Linked DNA regions of Homo sapiens: region 1 is linked to region 2. The links come from fine-mapping of genetic effects on gene expression. A gene starts in region 2. The other region holds a variant in brackets. All regions are shown on one strand. Distances are from middle to middle. Region 1 holds the start of LOC124904017 (a long non-coding RNA gene). Region 2 holds the start of CBX1 (chromobox 1).

Region 1 (10,199 bases), 86 kb before region 2:
CTCACAAACTGGGTCGTCAAATTTGAGTTTCCAAGGGGGCTCTCAGTTCCCCCATGACTCTAGAGAAGGAAAAATAGAAAGCATTATAGGTGTTCAGACTGGTCACAGAAGACATCTTCGCAAGGCAGTTCCTATCACAGCCAGCTGATGTCACCAACGGGGCATGGGGGAGATGGAGGAAAGAAACAACAGAAGAGACGAAGAGGAAGGAGGGACGACGGAGCAAAAGTGAAGACATGATATACGGCCGAGGACATAGGGTGAGAGGAAAGAAAAGAAAAGGGTGGAGGAAAGAGAGAGGAAGGAGAATTCGAAGCATAGGCTTTTGCCTACTTCCCTTCTCCCGTCCCTAACACACGGATGAGAGCTTCTCGCCTCTTTCTATATCCAGAAAGTATGGAGACCCCTCACTCTCCGACCTCGGTGCTATCTCCAGGGCCCAGAGGGGCAAACTGGGGAGGGGAGGGGAGACTTGTAAACATGAGTGCAATTTTCCTCTGGTTTCCCCAGAAGTTGCCCGTTTCCTGGGCCATTCCTCTCCAGGCAGCCCTCGGGAGTTCCCGCCGCACCGACCCCAGCCAGGCTCCAGCGGTCCCCTCTCTTCCATCCCGCCATCTCTCTGAGGGGCTTGCGTCTCCCTGATGCGCTCTGGTGTCTGTCTGAGCCATCCATCAAGGATGGCAGGCTGGGGGAAACATGAAAAAGAGCCTATTTGGCTATTAACATCCCCTCCCGCTTTGTTGTCTCTCTCCTCCCCAGTCCCCTACCAGCCCCTCACCCAACCCCTCCCTTTTCCCCTTTTGCAGGAGACAAAACCAGACTGACAAGCTGAAGACTCAAACATTAATCAAACTGCGCTCCGGAACAACCTTTCCCTCGCATTAATAAATACATTTGCGGCCCCTCATTGGACAGTTGGCCTAATTTGTTTCTTTTTCGCGGGGTGGGGGGAGCAGCCGCGCCCGCGCCCCCTGGCTCCCAGCAGCCCTGTGCAAAGCAGATGTTCCGCCGCAGACGCGGAGCTGCGCCTAGCCGCGCGCCCCGGAGGCCGCGGTTGCCATGGCGACGGCGGGGCCGCCTGCTGTCGCCGAGCACGCTGTCTCGCCCGCTCAGTGATTACCTCCATCTCCGCAGTGTTCGCCATACGGCCCGGATTCTAATCAGATCCCCTCCCCCCTCCCCCCTCCCTCCTCCGCCCGGCCCACTACCCCTTCAGCTCCCACAGCCTTGGGACTCATTGAGAACTGCCCGCGCATCCCTGACGGTGCCCAGGAAGGCAGAGTGGGGGAGAGACGACCCGCACTCAGCCTGTGTTTAGGGAGGACTGGACCCAGTGCGGTTCGCAAGAGGTTCTGTGTCCCCAGGCCATCTTTGGTGACATTGAACCCCGGGAGTCCAGCTCCCAGCACTGTCCCCTGAAGACTCCTCCTCCTCCCCCTTGGTATGTTGAGGCAGGTCACCTGAGGTCCCCAAGAGAGGTAAGGCAGGCAACCATAGTTCCCCTTCCATCTGGACAAGACTCTTCCATTCCCGTTCTGTAAGTGCTGGGAATGATTTCATCTGCACAGCCTGGAGGTGGGCAGGGTTTCTGGAACCATCAGAGCATCAGCCCAAGCCATGCTTCTTGTGCTAAACGCAGTGGTTTCTCAGACTAAAGGGAGGAGTGGAGAAGCACAGGTCTGGTACTCTAGCCACTCAGGCCTGGCCTGAGTTAGGCCCATGGTTATTTGACCCCCTCCACATCACACACACACTATGCTTTCCATGCTTCCAGGCTGAGGGTGGTTTTTTATAGGTGGTCTCAGATGTACCCCCGGCTGGCAGCCTTGCAAGGGATGCACTGCGAACCCTCTCCGGACTTAGTAATGAACAAGGGGCAGTGCGATGCCTCGGGGCCTTGGGGTACCTGGCTGTCTTTCTGTTAGGGGAGGAGGGTCCTTTCCCTGAGACTCTGAGGCTTCACTATAAGATCCCAAGCATAAACATCCCTGGCTTTAGGAGAAACGAGGTAATAACAGAAGCCAGAGGCAAGAGAGCACAGAGAGGTTGGGAGTGAGGCCGGCAGGGAAGAAGGCAGATTTGGGACAGGAAGATGAGATTCTGGGTTCAGATTCCACCTTCCAGCCTAAATCACAAGGCAGGAAGCCTGAGGTGGTTGGCGTAAAAAATAATTTTGCTCAAGGGGAGGAACCCTTTGGAGTGACGAAAAGTAGAAACACTCATGTTCCAGAAGTGTTACCAATGCCAGGGAAAGCTTGCTTAAACACTCTCACAACATCCCAAATGCCAGCCTCCTTCCAATGTTCGCCGGAAAGTTCTGAGCCGTATTAGCAAATAAGAAGAAATGCCAGGCTGAGCTCTCTCTCCGAGGCTACTAAGAATCCTCATGCTAGAGCTGCAAGGGCCTTTAGAGATCTGGACCGATCCTTCATTTTACAGATGAAAAAACTGAAATCCAGAGAGGAATGACAACTGGCCAAGATCCCACAGCTAGAAATAGTGGAACCAGGTTTTTATTTCTGCAATAGTGGCCACTGTTCTGCCCTCTTTCCTCTCTCAGAGGCAACCAGCTGGGAAACTCTGGTTTCCAAGTCCTCTCTCAGAGGCAACCGGCTGGGAAACTCTGGTTTCCAAGAGGCACAGACAGAATCCCAAAAATCTCAGGCCTTTCCCAGCCCCTAGTCACCCTGCCTCCTGAAGGCCTGTCACCTACCTGAAGGCAGCTCCACTAGAGTGACAGCTCCTGTTGGCCCTGGCTGGCTCAGGGCCTCTGGGGAGGGTATGGGGGGATGGTGGGTTGGGAGAGAACTTTTGTGGGGCCTCCTTCAGTCAATGGTCTACAGCTCTGTCTTTGTCTGTCTGTCACTCAGAAGGGAACTGCTGAAGGGAGAGGTCAGGCTGGTCGGTAGAAAGGGAGAAAGAGGCCTATCCCTGTCAGAGAGGGGTTGGGAAGAAGGCAGGCAAGGGGACCGAAGCTCCTTCAACCTCCTCATCCTCTCCCACTCCAACTCCTGGGCTGTTTCCCCTAGGGAATTCCAGGCTTTGCTCATTTTAGGACCAGGGCAGCAACTGCACACAAAGGCCCTTCTCTTCTTGCCGTGTGAAATCCTGGCTCCCCATTGGAGAGCTACTCCCTTACCCTGCCCTGTCTGCAAGAAGAGGCTGCCAAGGGGTCTAACTCAAACCTACAAGGCAGGGAGTTCCATTGCGTTCCCCTTCCATGCAACCAGCACCCTGACTCCACCCCTGTGCTTGCCCGTGTCCCTGCTCGCGCCTGCCACATCAGATTCCCCAGGCTCCCTCACCCCCCCGTGCAATTTAAAGCAGATTCATCCCCTGAGAGCCCCAGTTTCCAGGCCACCCTAGCTTCTACTGTACACTATCCTATCTCCCCAGATTGTGCTGTTTCCAGTCTCCCCTTGTTCCCTCTGCACACGAATCTTCCTCCCCAGATTCAACTGTTTTCAGGCTACTCCCTCTGTCTGCCCCCTGTACACGACTGTCTCCCCAGATCCTGCTGTTTCTAGGTTCCCCCATATTTCCCCGGTATACAAATTGGCCTCCCTGGATTCAGCAGTTTCCAGAAGCCCCTTGCTCTCTCACTAGGCAGTTCCATCTCCCCAGATTCAGCTGTTTTCAGGCTCCCTTCATTTGCCCTGTACACAGGTACCCCTCCCAGGTTCTGCTGTTTCTAGGCTTCCCGATTTCCCTTGTATACGCATCAGTTTCTAGCTTATGTTGATCCCAGCTGCCTAAGGGATTCAGCAGGTTTAGGGAGAGTGGAAGGAAGAAGAGAGTCAGAAAGAGGAGGAGAAGAAAGATGGTCATCAGGGAAGCTCCGGATTTCTCTTGTGACCCTAAGCAGCTTGCATATGACAGCCTCTGGGCCTCTGCCTCTACAAATAGGTCCCTTAAGGCCATCTGCCCTGGGATACCCCAATCCCCTCCCCATTGCTGCTGCCCAGGATCTGAGCTTTAAGTTGGACATCCTCCGGAGGGCCCCCGTCTTGGCAGGAGTGCTTATGCTTGCATGAGGTGGGACAGGCAAGAGCCTTCCCAAGCCAGGAGTTCCCTTGTCTCTCCTCTGCTATTTCCTTCTTGCCTTCCCAGCACCCACGCCCGCCCCCTTTTTTTTTTCTTTTTGAGTTGGAGTTTCACTGTGTCGCCCAGGCTGGAGTGTAGTGGCGTGATCTCGGCTCGCTACAACCTCTGCCTCATGGGCTCAAGCAACAATCCTGCCTCCGCCTCCGGAGTAGCTGGGACTACAGGCGTGTGCCACCATGCCTAGCTAATTTTTGTATTTTTAGTAGAGACAAGGTTTCACCATGTTGGCCAGGCTGGTGAACTCCTGACCGCAGGTGATCCACCTGCCTTGGCCTCCCAAAGTGGTGGGATTACAGGCGTGAGCCACTGTGCCCACCCCCACCCCTTGTCTCTTTCTCATGTGTTGCACCTTAGCTCTCCTCAATTTATCCACATACAATTTATTTTATTTTATTTATTTATTATTTTTTTTTTGAGATGGAGTCACAAAGTGCTGGGATTATAGGCGTGAGCCACCACGCCTGGCCTTTTGTTTTATTTTTGAAACAGTCTTACTCTGTCGCCCAGGCTGGAGAGCAGTGGCATCATCTCATCTCACTGCAACCTCTGACTCTGGGGTTCAAGTGATTCTCCTCCTTCAGCATCCTGTATCCACATAGAATTTAAAGGAAACTCCAAATGCACTCCCAGAACTAAAGGGAGTACAGAACTAAAGAGTCACACTTTTTTTTTTTTTTTTTTTTTTTTTTTTTTCAGTTTTCAAGATGGAGTAGTATCAATCTCAGGCCCTGGAAA[C/T]TGCCCCTGGACTAGTTTCCTGGCATGCTTCTCCAGCCTTTGTAAACAACTGTTTCATCTGCAGACTCCCTGCATCCTAATCCTCCTTGGGGCTGGAGGTGGGAGGGTATGGGAAGTGTTCTGCAAGGTACTCCAGTCTTCTTATCTTCTCTGACTCATTTAGCTACTGCCTGCAAAGTTTCCACTGGAATCTGGGGAAATGGTCTGATCCCTCATCGCCTTCCTCCATATACAGCTGCCTACCCATTAGACTAATCCCAGCCATTTGTCAGTCACGATGCTCCATCATACTGGCCCCAGCAAACTTTCTGGTTTCACTAAGAAATAAATAGGAAGGGCAGGCCCACTGGGTCCAGGATAGTGCCCTACAAGGAGACCTTTCTTCAAAATGAAATCCATACCTGGGTTCAGGCCGCATTGCTTCTGCTCCCAGCACCCGAGAGCATCCTCAATCACCTCACAAGTGGGAATGACAACGCCTGCCTCCTTCACTGAGATAGAGGTACAAAAAAATTACATGTGTGAAAGAAATAGAATACTTTTACGGATCCTGACAAATGTGAGTTTACATAAATCCTATTAAAAGAACATTGTGCAAGAAGCTTTTCTGTGTCTTGTATATAAATTATCCTCAGAAAAGAAGTGCAGCTGATGGGACTCACTTATTAATTTCATTATTTAAAAAACAGACGTGCTGGGCGTGGTGGCTTATGTCGGTAATCCCAGCACTTTGGGAGGCCAAGGCGGGAGGATCACTTGAGGTCAGGAGTTTGAGACTAGCCTGGCCAATATGGTGAAACCCTGTCTCTACTAAAAATACAAAAATTAGCTGGGCATGGTGTTGTGTGCCTCTAGTCCCAGCTACTTGGGAGGTTGAAGCACGAGAATCACTTGAACCCAGGAGGCACATGCAGCAGTGAGTCAGGATGGCGCCACTTACTCCAGCCTGGGCGACAGAGCAAGATTCTGTCTCAATAAATAAATAAATAAATAAATAAATAAATAAATAAATAAATAAAATAAAAATTAGAAAACGCTATTGGAGCCAGCCATGGTGGCTCCCAGCACTTTGGGAGGCCGAGGTGGGCAGATTGCTTGAGCTCAGGAGTTCGAGACCAGCCTGGGCAACATGGTGAAACCCCGTCTCTACTAAAAATACAAAAATTAACCAGGCATGGTGGCAGGTGCCTGTAATCCCAGCTACTCAAGAGGCTGAGGCAGGAGAATTACTTGAACCTGGGAGGTGGAGGTTGCAGTGAGCAGAGACTGTGCCACTGTACACTAGCCTGGGTGATAGAGTGAGACTGTTAAAAAAAAAAAAAGCATGCAAAGAAAAATGTGCATTGGGGTTTTGAGTCAAGAGCCCTGCTATTTTTTCTTACTGCCCAGGAAGGCACTCCTTGTCAAGGGAATTCTATTTATAAACGTTATATTCTCATGATCTGCAGAAAACACAGGGCAGAAAGAGGAAGAGGTAAGAGGGTTCCAGGAAACCCTCTTTCTTGTCTCAGTTCTGTCCCTTGTTAGCTGTGTGACATTGGGTAAGTCAACCTTTGAGTTTCACTTTCCTAATCTGAAGGCCTCTAGCTTGCTCTCCCAGAAAGATCCACTTTTTTTTTTCTACCTTAGAGTATAAACTTCAGTCAGTGCCCAAGCCCCTCAGACCCCTTCCTCAACCTCCCAGCTACCTTGGGGAATGGGTCCAAATCTCCAGAGTTGGAGGAAAAGGTCTGTATTTGTTTTCTGTTTGTTTGTTTGAGACAGAGTCTCACTCCATCACCCAGGCTGTAGTGCAGTGGCGCAGTCTCGGCTCACTGCAACCTCCATCTCTTGGGTTCAAGCAATTCTCCTGCCTCACCCTCCCGAGTAGCTGGGATTACAGGCATGTGTCACCATGCCCAGCTAATTTTTGTATTTTTAGTAGAAACAGGGTTTCACCATGTTGGCCATGTTGGTCTCGAACTCCTGACCTAAAGTGATCTGCCCACCTCGGCCTCCCAAAGTGCTGGGATTACAGGAGCGAGACACCATGCCCAGCCAGGTCTGTATTTCTTGACAGTGTTTCTTGATCAGAGGCCCTGTTTTCTCAGGACAATTGCTGTCCCAGGTGCCCAGGGTCTCTCACCTTCGTGTTCCCATGGAGGTGCTCACAGCTCTGATGTGGGAACCCCCAAGGTTCTCCTCTGTGGTCTAGGGAGTATCTAGGAATGGACTGCAATGCTCAGCACTGTGAGATAACTCCTGCCCAATAGAGAGTAGAGATGCCCTCTAGGTCTGGTTCCTGCAAGCCTTTTCATAGTCCCGTCACTGATCCCGGCCAGGCTAAGGATGAAAGAGGGGCTTGTCTTACAGCACCATCTTCTGGGCAAACCTGTGAGAGCTACTTCTTCTTGCTGCCATCTGGAGAACACTGAGATTTTGGGGGACTTTGGGTCCCAGAAGTTTTGTTTGTTTGTTTGTTTGAGATGGAGTCTCGCTCTGTCACCCAGGGCTGGAGTGCAGTGGTGCGATCTTGGCTCACTGCAACTTCCATCTCCCGGGTTCAAGCGATTCTCCTGCCTCAGCCTCTGAGTAGCTGGGACCAGAGGCGCACGTCACTATGCCCAGCTAATTTTTGTATTTTTAGTAGAGACGGGGTTTCACCATGTTGGTCAGGCTTGTCTCAAACTTCTGACCTCGTGATCTGCCCACCTCGGCCTCCCAAAGTGCTGGGATTACAGGTGTGAGCCACCACGCCCGGCCGATTCCAGAAGTTTTTATCTTACCTGTTTCCCCAAGATAAATTAATTCTGGACTTTTCCAGCCATCTCTTAGGAGAGGATGTTCCAAGAGCCCTCCAACCTTCCAAACACAAGGCTGCTAGGAATGGTAAGCAGCTGAAACCAGTCTTCCAATCATTCCACCCAGAACCTGAGTCCTCACCTACTCACCCCATATATCCCCACCCCAGAACACCCTGTCACTCACTAAGAAGCTGTTGTCTGGAAGCAAGGTTATAGCCTCATCACTTCCAGAGTTTTCTTCTATCCTCAAGTTTATTTGTTTGTTTGTTTCAGATGAGGGCTCACTGGCAGCCATGAGAGTAAAACACATATTTTCAATCTCTTAAAAATCAGGTGTCTGGATTGGCTGTGATGGCTCATGCCTGTAATCCCAGCACTTTGGGAGGCTGACTTGGGTGGATCGCTTGAGTCCAGGAGTTCAAGACCAGCCTGGGCAACATGGCAAAATCCTGTCTCTACAATAAACAAAAAATTAGCCGGGTGTGGTGGCATGTGCCTGTAGTCCCAGCTACCTGGAGGTTGAGGCTGCAGTGAGCCATGATCACGCCACTGTACTCCAACCTAGGCGACAGAGCAAAACTCTGTCCCTTAGGAAAAAAAAAAAAGGCTAGGCATGGCGGCTCAATCCTGTAATCCCAGCACTTTGGGAGGCTGAGGCAGGAGGATCACTTGAGCCCAGGAGTTTGAGAACAGCCTGGACAACAAAGTGAGACCCCCATCTCCCTACCAAAAAAAAAAAAGCAAAAAAAAAAAAAGCAAGGTGTCGTGGTGTGCACCTATAGTCCAAGCTACATGGGAAGCTGAAGTAGGAGGATCACTTCTCCCCAGGAAATCAAGGCTGCAGTGAACCGTATTCATGCCACTGCACTCCAGGCTGGGTGACAGAGCAAGACCCAGTCTCAAAAAAAAAAAAAAAAAATCAGATGTCTAGACAAAGAGAAATTGTGGATCTGGTCAAATGGAATCAGATCCCTCTTGCTACTTCTTTTTCTTTCATTTGAAGTGTATGTGTCTATTTTCAGAGTGGGGTACGTGAGAGTGATAAGAGGGCACTAAATATATAAGATATAAAGTAGACTTGTGTTTTTTTTTGTTTGTTTGTTTTTTGTTTTTTTGAGACGGAGTTTCGCTCTTGTTGCCCAGGCTGGAGTGCAATGGTGCAATCTCAGCTCACTGAAACCTCCACCTCCCGGGTTCAAGCAATTCTCCTGCCTCAGCCTCCCGAGTAGCTGGAATTACAGGCACCTGCCACCATGCCTGGCTAATTTTTTTTTTTTTTTTTTTTGTATTTTTAGTAGAGACGGGGGTTTCACCATCTTGGCCAGGCTGGTCTTGAACTCCTGACCTTGTGATCCACCTGCCTTGGCCTCCCAAAGTGCTGGGATCACAGGCATGAGCCACCGTGCCCGGCCGACTTGTTATTTTTAAACATACTTTTCAGAACCTAAATATTCAGATCATTGTCCCTGACAAAATGGTCCTTTTGGAGGGCCTTTTTTGGAATGATTGCCTGCAATTATCTGAATTAATTCAAGCACCAACTCTTCAAATTCTGAGAGTGGACTTGATTTTTGCAAGCTGCTTGGTGAGTAAGATCAGCAATCAAGCTGGGTGGTACTGTTTTAGATCAAGAATGAGAAGTGACTGTAATGAAAATATTTCGTTTTGGGGGTCATAAATTGACCCTGAATTCCTGTTCTCTTCTTTAACCCAGGTTCCATGTTGCTAGCAGAGTTCCTCCCTCAAAACATAGAGCTGATATCACTTAACAGCTTGAAAATCTTCAGTGGTTCCCTATTACCTTCAGAACACAGGCCAAGTTCTTTACTGACTTTTTGTTTTGTTTTGTTTTGTTTTTTTGAGATGGAGTTTCGTTCTTGTTGCCCAGGCTGAAGTGTAATGGCACGATCTTGGCTCACCGAAACCTCTGCCTCCTGGGTTCAAGCGATTCTCCTGCCTCAGCCTCCCGAGTAGCTGGGATTACAGGCATGCACCACCACACCCTGCTAATTTTGTATTTTTAGTAGAGACAGGGTTTCTCCATGTTGGTCGGGCTGGTCTCGATCTCAGGTGATCCACCCACCTTGTCCTCCCAAAGTACTGGGATTACAGGTGTGAGCCATGGCGACTGGCCACAAGCCAAGTTCTTTAGCTCTGTGGTTGGGGTAAAGAAGAGCCAGCAATGGAGTCAGACCAGAATGGGTTTAAATCCCACCTATGAGCTCTGAGGCAAGTTATTCAGTCTCTCAGACTCTCAGCTCTCTCATTTGTAAAAAGAAGGCTAACGGGCCAGGCGCGGTATACCCAACACTTTGGGAGGCCAAAGTGGACAGATCGCTTGAGCTCAGGAGTTTGAGACCAGCCTGGGCAACATGGTGAGACCTCGTGTCTATTAAAAAATTTTTAAAAATTAGCTGGGTGTGGTGGTACATGCCTGTGGTCCCAGCTACTCGGGGGACTGAGGTAAGAGGATAGCTTGAGCCCCGGAGGTTGAGGCTGCAGCGAGCCTATCAATACCTACTTTGTTAGGTTGTTTTGAGGACAATGGTAATTTTAAGGTGTATATAGTAGCAAACT
Region 2 (8,000 bases):
ACGGCCAGTTGCACAGCCTGTATACCTTTTCTATATTTAGTACCAGAGTGAGTACAAAACTGAAGCTAACCATTCTGGGCAACAGAGACTGTCCCCACAAAAAAGAAGCCATGCATGGTGGCATGAGACTGTAGTCCTAGCTACTCAAGAGGCTGTGGTGGGAGGACTGCTTGTGTCCAGGAGGTTGAGGCTTCAGTGAGCCATGATGCCACCACTGCACTCCAGCCTGGCAACAGAGCGACACTCTGTCTTAAAAAAACAAAAAACAAACAAACAAACAAACAAAAAGAAACTAACTGAGGCTAAGACAAACATGGCAAAGCAACAGCTTAACTCTGCCAAATGTCACAGACACAGGACAAGCAAACTACTATGCACATTAATTTGGCTGAGTTCTCAGAATGGATCTCAAAGCTCCCCTATTCATCATTCATTCATCAACAATCTGAACGGCCTACTATGTGCCAGGCACTAATGAACAAGAGGTGCGTCCCCATTTTTTCATTTTTCTTTTTTTGAGACAGAGTTTCGCTCTTGTTGCCCAGGCTGGAGTGCAATAGCGCGATCTCGGCTCATGGCAACCTCTGCCTCCCGGGTTCAAACGATTCTCCTGCCTCAGCCTCCCAAGTAGCTGGGATTACAGGTGTGCACCACCACGCCCAGCTAATTTTGTATTTTTAGTAGAGATGGGGCCAGTATGGCTCCATTTTATGGGAGCCCATAAACTAGCAATTAGCCTTCTACACCAGAAACTCTTCGTGGAAAGAACCTATGAAGTGAAAATCTACCAAATCTAATGCAAAATCTCTTACACCACTGCAGATAGGATTTTTTTTTAAAAAAGGGAGGTTTTGCTAGATAAACCACTAGAGGATGCCAAAATTTAATGAATTATTTTCAAATGGTGTGAACAACAAAGAGAAACATTTTCCTAGTCCTTAAAATGGGCACAAGAATGAGTGCTATCTTTCTTTAGAGGTATAGTTTGTAAGTTATAGGTATCCTGTATTCAGAAATGCAGAAGACCAGGGTAACTTACTTACCACTAGGCTTCTATTTACATTCAAAACTATTTATTTCACACACCATCTATCTACCTATCATCTATCTTTTCTTTTTTTTGAGACAGAGTCTCGCTCTGTTGCCCGGGCTGGAGTGCAGTGGTGCAGATCTCGGCTCACTGCAACCTCTGCCTCCCGGGTTCAAGCGATTCTCCTGCCTCAGCCTCCCGAGTAGCTGGGACTACAGGCATGCGCCACTAGGCCCAGCTAATTTTGTATTTTTAGTAGAGACAGGGTTTCACCATGTTGGTTGGCCAGGATGGTCTCGATCTCTTGACCTCATGATCCGCCCACCTCAGACTCCCAAAGTGCTGGGATGACAGGCTTGAGCCACTGCGCCCGACCCTACTATTTATTTTTTTAATGAGAAACAATTTAGGATACAGCAGCCATTGAAGAAAAATATCACCACAGGGAAAACCGTAAACGACTTCAGGTCCTCCACTCCCGTGAAGCTTCATTAAGGTGCCACCGGTTTCAATACAAGTGCTTTTCAATCACACCACTTTCATATAAAAGTCTATAAGGCACCTAGGGAGGAACACCGGCATTAATTTCCCCATTGTATTCCTGAATCTATTCCAAAGCCTTGGACCTTTCACAATCTTTCCAAACTGCTGATGTGACTCTTAACACAATTGAGGAGGCTACTTTACCCTGGGCTAGGGGTTCTAGTATATAACTGATTATAGCTGAACTTTTTGTAAATTCCACCTCAATTGCGTTAAACCAACACGTCTAAATGTAACACCAATTTATGAAAAACCCTCATTTGAAACTTTGAAAAAGAGGTAAAATATGGCCAGGCGCAGTGGCTCACGCCTATAATCCCAGCACTTTGGGAGGCCGACGCGGGAGGATCACGAGGTCAGGAGTTCGAGACCAGCGTGACCAGTACGGTGAAACCCCGTCTCTACTAAAAATACAAAAATTAGCCGGGCGTGGTGGCGTGTGCCTGTAATCCCAGCTAGTCGGGAGGCTGAGGCAAGAGAATCGCATGAATCCGGGAGGTGGAGGTTGCAGTGAGCCAAGATCGCACCACTGCACTCCAGCCTGGGCAACAGAGGAAGACTCTTCTCAAAAAAAAAAAAAAAAAGAGGTAAAATATAGCTCACTCTATTCAAATTTTCCAACAAGGAAAAGCTGGCTAAAAACAGAAGGGCCCACGAAACAAATATTACCTCACAATCTCACATAATTTTCCTATGTCTCCCAATTTCTCGCACCTCACACGATCTCACAATCTCTCACTACCTCACGCCGTTCCTCAACTATTAACTCATCTACATATTTTTACAATTTCATCACCTTTGTGAGACCAGTTACGATCCCACACAAAAACGTACGGAACTAATTTTGAATCAAAGCAAGAACTGCACTTGGACTTTTTTAACTCCCCAAAGGAATCATGGAGTGAAGGTAGTAGGAAACCTGGAAAACTGAAAAAAGCGTATTCCATCCTTTCTTCGCACATTATTCTTACAGCCTCCCCACTGTAAGGACCCATCAGGATGCAAGGGCGGCCTGCTTTCCCCTTTTTTCTTACATACCTTATAGAAATATTCTCGGGATCTCCGCCCTACTTATCCTAACAGCTCCTCCCCTTCCAGAGTCAGGCCCAGCAAACGCCTGCCCCTCCCCCTCCGTGTCCCCTTTCCCAATTTATTCCACACATCTCCTCCTCCAATCAGCACACCTTGTGCGGCCCTGGGCCCTCTTCCAATTCACTCGACGTTACTCCTCCGTAGTCCTGCAAAGCCAGGTTCCTCTGGCAGTCCCAGCCGGACCCGGCGTCTTCCGAATACAGTTACAAACCTCGGGTTGTGCGGTCGTATGCGCCTCCTCACGCCTATCCAAGCCTCAAGCCTGTCCCCTTCCGCCCTATCCCGCAGCCGCCCAGCCAAGCAACATTGTTCCAGACCACCCGGGCCCCGAAGAGCGGCCCCCAAGTGCTCGGCCCACCCCCAAGCACTCAGTCTCTGGCTCAGGATTCGCGCCCCGCCCTCTCCATCCTTCACGCAGCTGGCACCGACGCCTCAGCGACAGGCGAAGAGCTCAGCGCGGGAAGCGGAGAAGCAGGACGCTGGACCCGGGCGCGCTCCCCGCTCCTAACCTCCGCCTCGAAAGCGCGTTCCCTCACGCAGGGCTCCCGCCGCCGCCGCCGCCGCGCCCCCTCCCCCAGCTCTCCCGCCTCCAGCGGGCTCCTCACCTCAGAGCAGCGCCCAAGAGCCCGAGAGGAATCGGTGCTGCGCTGCTGGCGCGTCGCGTCGGGTCGCCTGGGGGAGTGGCGCCCAGGAAGGCAGCAAGCCGGGTGGCCGCAGTGGCGTCCCTCACTGAAGCGGCGTACCGCAGGCCCCGGCCAACGGCCCTCCCCTCAGCCGAACAAAAGAGCCTCGCAGTCTGCGCTGCCCGCCGCTCGCACCGCGCAGGCGCAACGACCCGCCGCACGGCACCATGGGCCTCGGGGGTCTGTCCAAGACTACAAGGCCCGAAGCGCCGCGCGCCGCGCACGCACAGTAGGCGAGGGTGGTAGGGACTTATAGTTTTTAAACTGTAACGGTGGAGAGATTGCAGCGTAGAGCGTTGTAACCTAGAATATTAGAACATATGGGCCAGGGGCAGTCGCTCACGCCTGTCATCCCAGCACTTTGGGAGGCCGAGGCGGGTGGATCACCTGAGGTCAGGGGTTCGAGACCAGTCTTACCAACAAGGTGAAACCCTGTCTCTACTAAAAATGCAAAAATTAGCCGAGCGTGGTGGCAGGTGCCTGTAGTCCCAGCTACTCAGGAGGCTGAGACAAGAATTGCTTGAACTTGGGAGGCGGAGCTTGCAGTGAGCCGAGATCCAGCCACTGCGATCCAGCCTGGGCGATGGAGCGAGACTCCATCTCAAAAAAAAAAAAAAAAAAAAATTAGAACATATGATTTTTATAAGCGAGCCCCCTGATGCTTGGCCCCCAAAAAATCAACCACTTCTGGACAGTTCTGTAATTCACATCCTCAAAATTTTTGAATCTTAGATTCTTCACCAGAACTTTATCATATCGCCGCTGCCTCAAATTTCCAATGATTTCTTAGTCCTCAATCTCTGCCTCCTCAAATCTCTGTAAAATTCCTACTCACGCCGGCACGGTGGCTCAAGCCTATAATCCCAACACTTGGGGAGGCGGAGGTGGGTGGATCACTTGAGGTCAGGGTTTCAAGACCAGCCTGGCCAACATGGTGAAACCCCATCTCTACTAAAATACAAAAATTAGCTGGGCGTCGTGGCGGGCGCCTGTAGTGCCAGCTACTCGGGAGGCTGAGGGAGGAGAATCGCTTGAACCCAGGAGGTGGAGGTTACAGTGAGCCGAGATCGCGCCATTGCACTCCAGCCTGGGCAACAAGAGCGAAACTTCGTCTAAAAAAAAAAATACTGTTCAGTGTTAAGATTACTTCCCCTTTGAGGTCTTCCCTGATTCCCTAGAGTAGGTTAGGTCCCCCCATAGGCCTCTCATAGCTTCCTGAATTTCCCCCTTTTCACTGGCTGCGCCACAAAAATGTCCTCTTTTTCATTGTAAGTTGTGCTCACCTTTTTCAGTGTCATTAATCTCCGTCAGCACCTTTCACCCAATCATCCCAAGGAAACACACAATTAGGAAAAAAACATGTTTTTAAGCCACAATATAACTAAAGTTTTATTTTTTTATTTTAAAGTATCCTTCTAATCAGGAGGAAGAGGGAAACTCTATTGCACTCTACCCCAAAAGGCAAGAGTTTGCATTTATAAGACAGTTTTGCTGATGCAGGCACTGTTCAGGGCAGGAGTTTGCATTTATAAGACAGTTTTGCTGATGCAGGCACTGTTCACGGCTCTGGAGAACTGTCATGTAAGAAAAACCCAGCCCAGCAATATCATAATAGAGTTTAGTTAAAAGGGCTTCAAGAAAGCACAGAGAAGATGAGAGGTGAAGCCAGCTGGACTTCCTGGGTCGAGTGGGGACTTGGAGAACTTTTCTGTCTTACAAGAGGATTGTGAAATGCACCAATCAGCGCTCTATACCTAGCAAGGGGATTGTAAAATATACCAATCAGCACTCTGTAAAAACACACCAATCAGCCCTCTGTAGCTAGCAAGAGGATTGTAAAATGCACCAATCAGCACTCTGCAAAATGCACCAATCAGCGCTCTGTAAAATGCAGGAATCTAAAAGTAGCCAATCACAGGGAGGATTGAAAAAAGGGCACTCTGATAGGACAGAAATAGCAAATGGGCAGGGACAAACAAGGGTGTAAAAGCTGGCCCCCTGCCCCCCACCCATTCCTGTTAGCCCGCAGCAGCAACCTGCTCAGGTCGGTTTCCACGCTATGGAAGCCTTGTTCTTTCGCGTTCTTTCGCTCTTCACAACAAATCTTGCTGCTGCTCACTCTTTGGGTCCCTGCCAGCTTTAAGAGCTGTTTTTAACACCATGAAGGTCCGCGGCTTCATTGTTTAAGTCAGGGAGACCACAAACCCACCGGAAGGAATCAACTCCGGACACAAAGAGAGCAATTCTTCCTGAAACATTTGGGCTGGGTTTCTAGGAAGAAGCAAGTGAGAAGCAAGCATCTCCTCACTTCCTCCTGTAGTGTACTGTTTTTGACTGATGATGATGAGAAAATTAGTTGTAATGATAATTAGCTACTATTAATGAGTGCTTTTTTTGTTTTTTTTCCCTGAGGTGGAGTCTTGCACTGTCGCCCAGGCTGGAGTGCAATGGCAAGATCACGGCTCACTGCAACCTCCGCCTCCCGGGTTCATGCACTTCTCCTGCCTCAGCCTCCCAAGTAACTGGGATTACAAGTGCATGCCACCATGCACAGCTAATTTTTTTGTATTTTAGTAGAGACGGGGGTTTCACCATGTTGCCCAGGCTGGTCTTGAACTCCTGAGTTCAGGCATCCACCCGCCCAAAGTGCTAAGATTACAGGCGTGAGCCACCACTTCTGGTTTATTTTTTATTTTATTTTATTTATTTATTATTATTATTATTTTTTGAGACGGAGTCTAACTCTGTCACCCAGGCTGGAGTGCAGTGGCATGATCCGGTTCACTGCAACCTCCACCTCCCAGGTTCAAGCAATTATCCAGCCTTGGTCTCCCGAGTAGCTGGGATTACAGGTGCCCACCACCATGCCCAGCTAATTTTTTTGTTTCCCGAGACTGAGTCTTGCTCTGTCACCCAGGCTGGAGGGCAGTGGTGAGATCTCGGCTCACTGCAACCTCCACCTCCCGGGTTCAAGCAATTATCCAGCCTCAGTCTCCTGAGTAGTTGGGTTTACAGTCGCCCGCCACCGTGCCTGGCTAATTTTTGTAATTTTAGTAGAGGGAGGTTTCACCATGTTGGCCAGACTGGTCTTGAACTCCTGACCTCAAGTGGTCCCACTGCCTCCGCCTACCAAAGTGCTGGGATTACAGGTGTGAGCCACCGCACCCAGCCTTAATTTTTGTATTTTTAGTAGAGACGGGTTTTCACTGTGTTTTCAGGCTGGTCTTGAACTCCTAACCTTGTGATCCCCCCGTTGCAGCCTCCCAAAGTGCTGGCGTTACAAGTGTGAGCCACCACACCCGGCCTATTTTTTTTTTTTTTTTTTTTTGAGACAGGATGTTACTCTCTCTCCTAGGCTGAAGTGCAGTAGTGCAATCACGGTTCACTGTAGTCTCAACTTCCCAGGCCCAAGTCATCTTTCCCCCTCAGCCTCCTGAGTAGCTTTGAGCCACACCTTACTCAGCTAATTTTTTCTATTTTGTAGAGCCAGAGTCTTGTCACATTGTCCAGGTTGGTCTGGAACGCCTGGGCTCAAGCAGGCCTTGACCTGTCTCGGCCTCCCAAAGTGCTGGGATTACAGATGTGAGCCACCATGCCTGGCCATAAATTCTTGATTGATTTAATCTCATTTCTATCTAACACCCAAACCATATTTCTGTCTACATAAAATGCTGCCATCCCTAATTCCTTGTATTGAGCTGAATTCTGCTCCCCATGGAGATGCCACCTATTTTCCCTAATTCTGGCATCTGTAGCCACACAGTAAGCCTTATCTTTCTTTCATATGTTTCTTCTAATATTGAAGTTCAGCCATCATGTTCCCTGAGGTCTCTATTTAAATGTCATCATTTTCCTAAACTGTACATTACAGGGCAACAGTTTCAGATGTATCATATTTATTGTGTTAGTAAATTCTGGCTCTTATATGTGTGTTTCAAGGTGGAGAGGGCCATCACTGCCTTTGTCCTGTATACCATTCTTTTTTTTTTTTTTTTTTTTTTTTGAGACGGAGTCTCACTTTGTCACTAGGCTGGAGTGCAGTGGCATGATCTTGGCTCACTGAAGCCTCTGCCTCCCGGGTTTAAGTGATTCTCCTGCCTCAGTCTCCCGACTAGCTGGAATTACAATCACACACCACCAGATGGTCTCAATCTCTTGAGAGTTCAAGACCAGGCTGGGCAATATAGTGAGACCTCATCTATACAAATAATAATAAAAAATTAGTCGGGCATGGTGGCACACACCTGTGGTCCCAGCTACTTAGGAGGCTTGGGTGGCAGGATCACTTGAGCCCAGGAGGTTGAGGCTGTCTTAATATTAAGACATGTGAGGCTAGGCACGGTGGCTCATGCCTGTAATCCCAGCACTTTGGGAAGCCAAGGCGGGTGGATCATGAGGTCAGGAGTTCAAGACCAGCCTGACCAATATGGTGAAACCCCATCTCTACTAAAAATACAAAAATTAGCTGGGCATGGTGGCGCGTGCCTGTAATCCCAGCTAGTCAGTAGGCAGTTTCTTGAGACTTTCCTGATGAGATCAGTGATGAATTTAATAAATGTGATTTTTTTTTACATTGAATAAATGCATCAACATTGGCTGATCTGCATAACTCTGTACCAGTATTTTCTAAATGGCTTGACTCCCTATCACAC

Evidence for each region. PIP is the estimated chance that this variant, and not a neighbour inherited with it, causes the effect.
Region 1: its variant is fine-mapped to the expression of CBX1 in whole blood (TOPMed, PIP above 0.99).

The regions. Positions count from the first base shown.
Region 1 is chr17:48,011,334-48,021,532 of GRCh38, forward strand. LOC124904017 (a long non-coding RNA gene) reads left to right here and starts at 45. Exons shown (of 2, transcript XR_007065826.1): 1 at 45-260; 2 at 760-907. RefSeq lists enhancers at 231-290, 3,692-4,193, 4,194-4,693, 6,371-6,470 and a silencer at 1,129-1,178. The variant C/T (reference allele first, on the strand shown) is at 4,840.
Region 2 is chr17:48,097,998-48,105,997 of GRCh38, forward strand. CBX1 (chromobox 1) reads right to left here and starts at 3,481. Exons shown (of 5, transcript NM_001127228.2): 1 at 3,271-3,481. RefSeq lists enhancers at 3,214-3,813, 3,640-3,899 and a silencer at 3,220-3,269.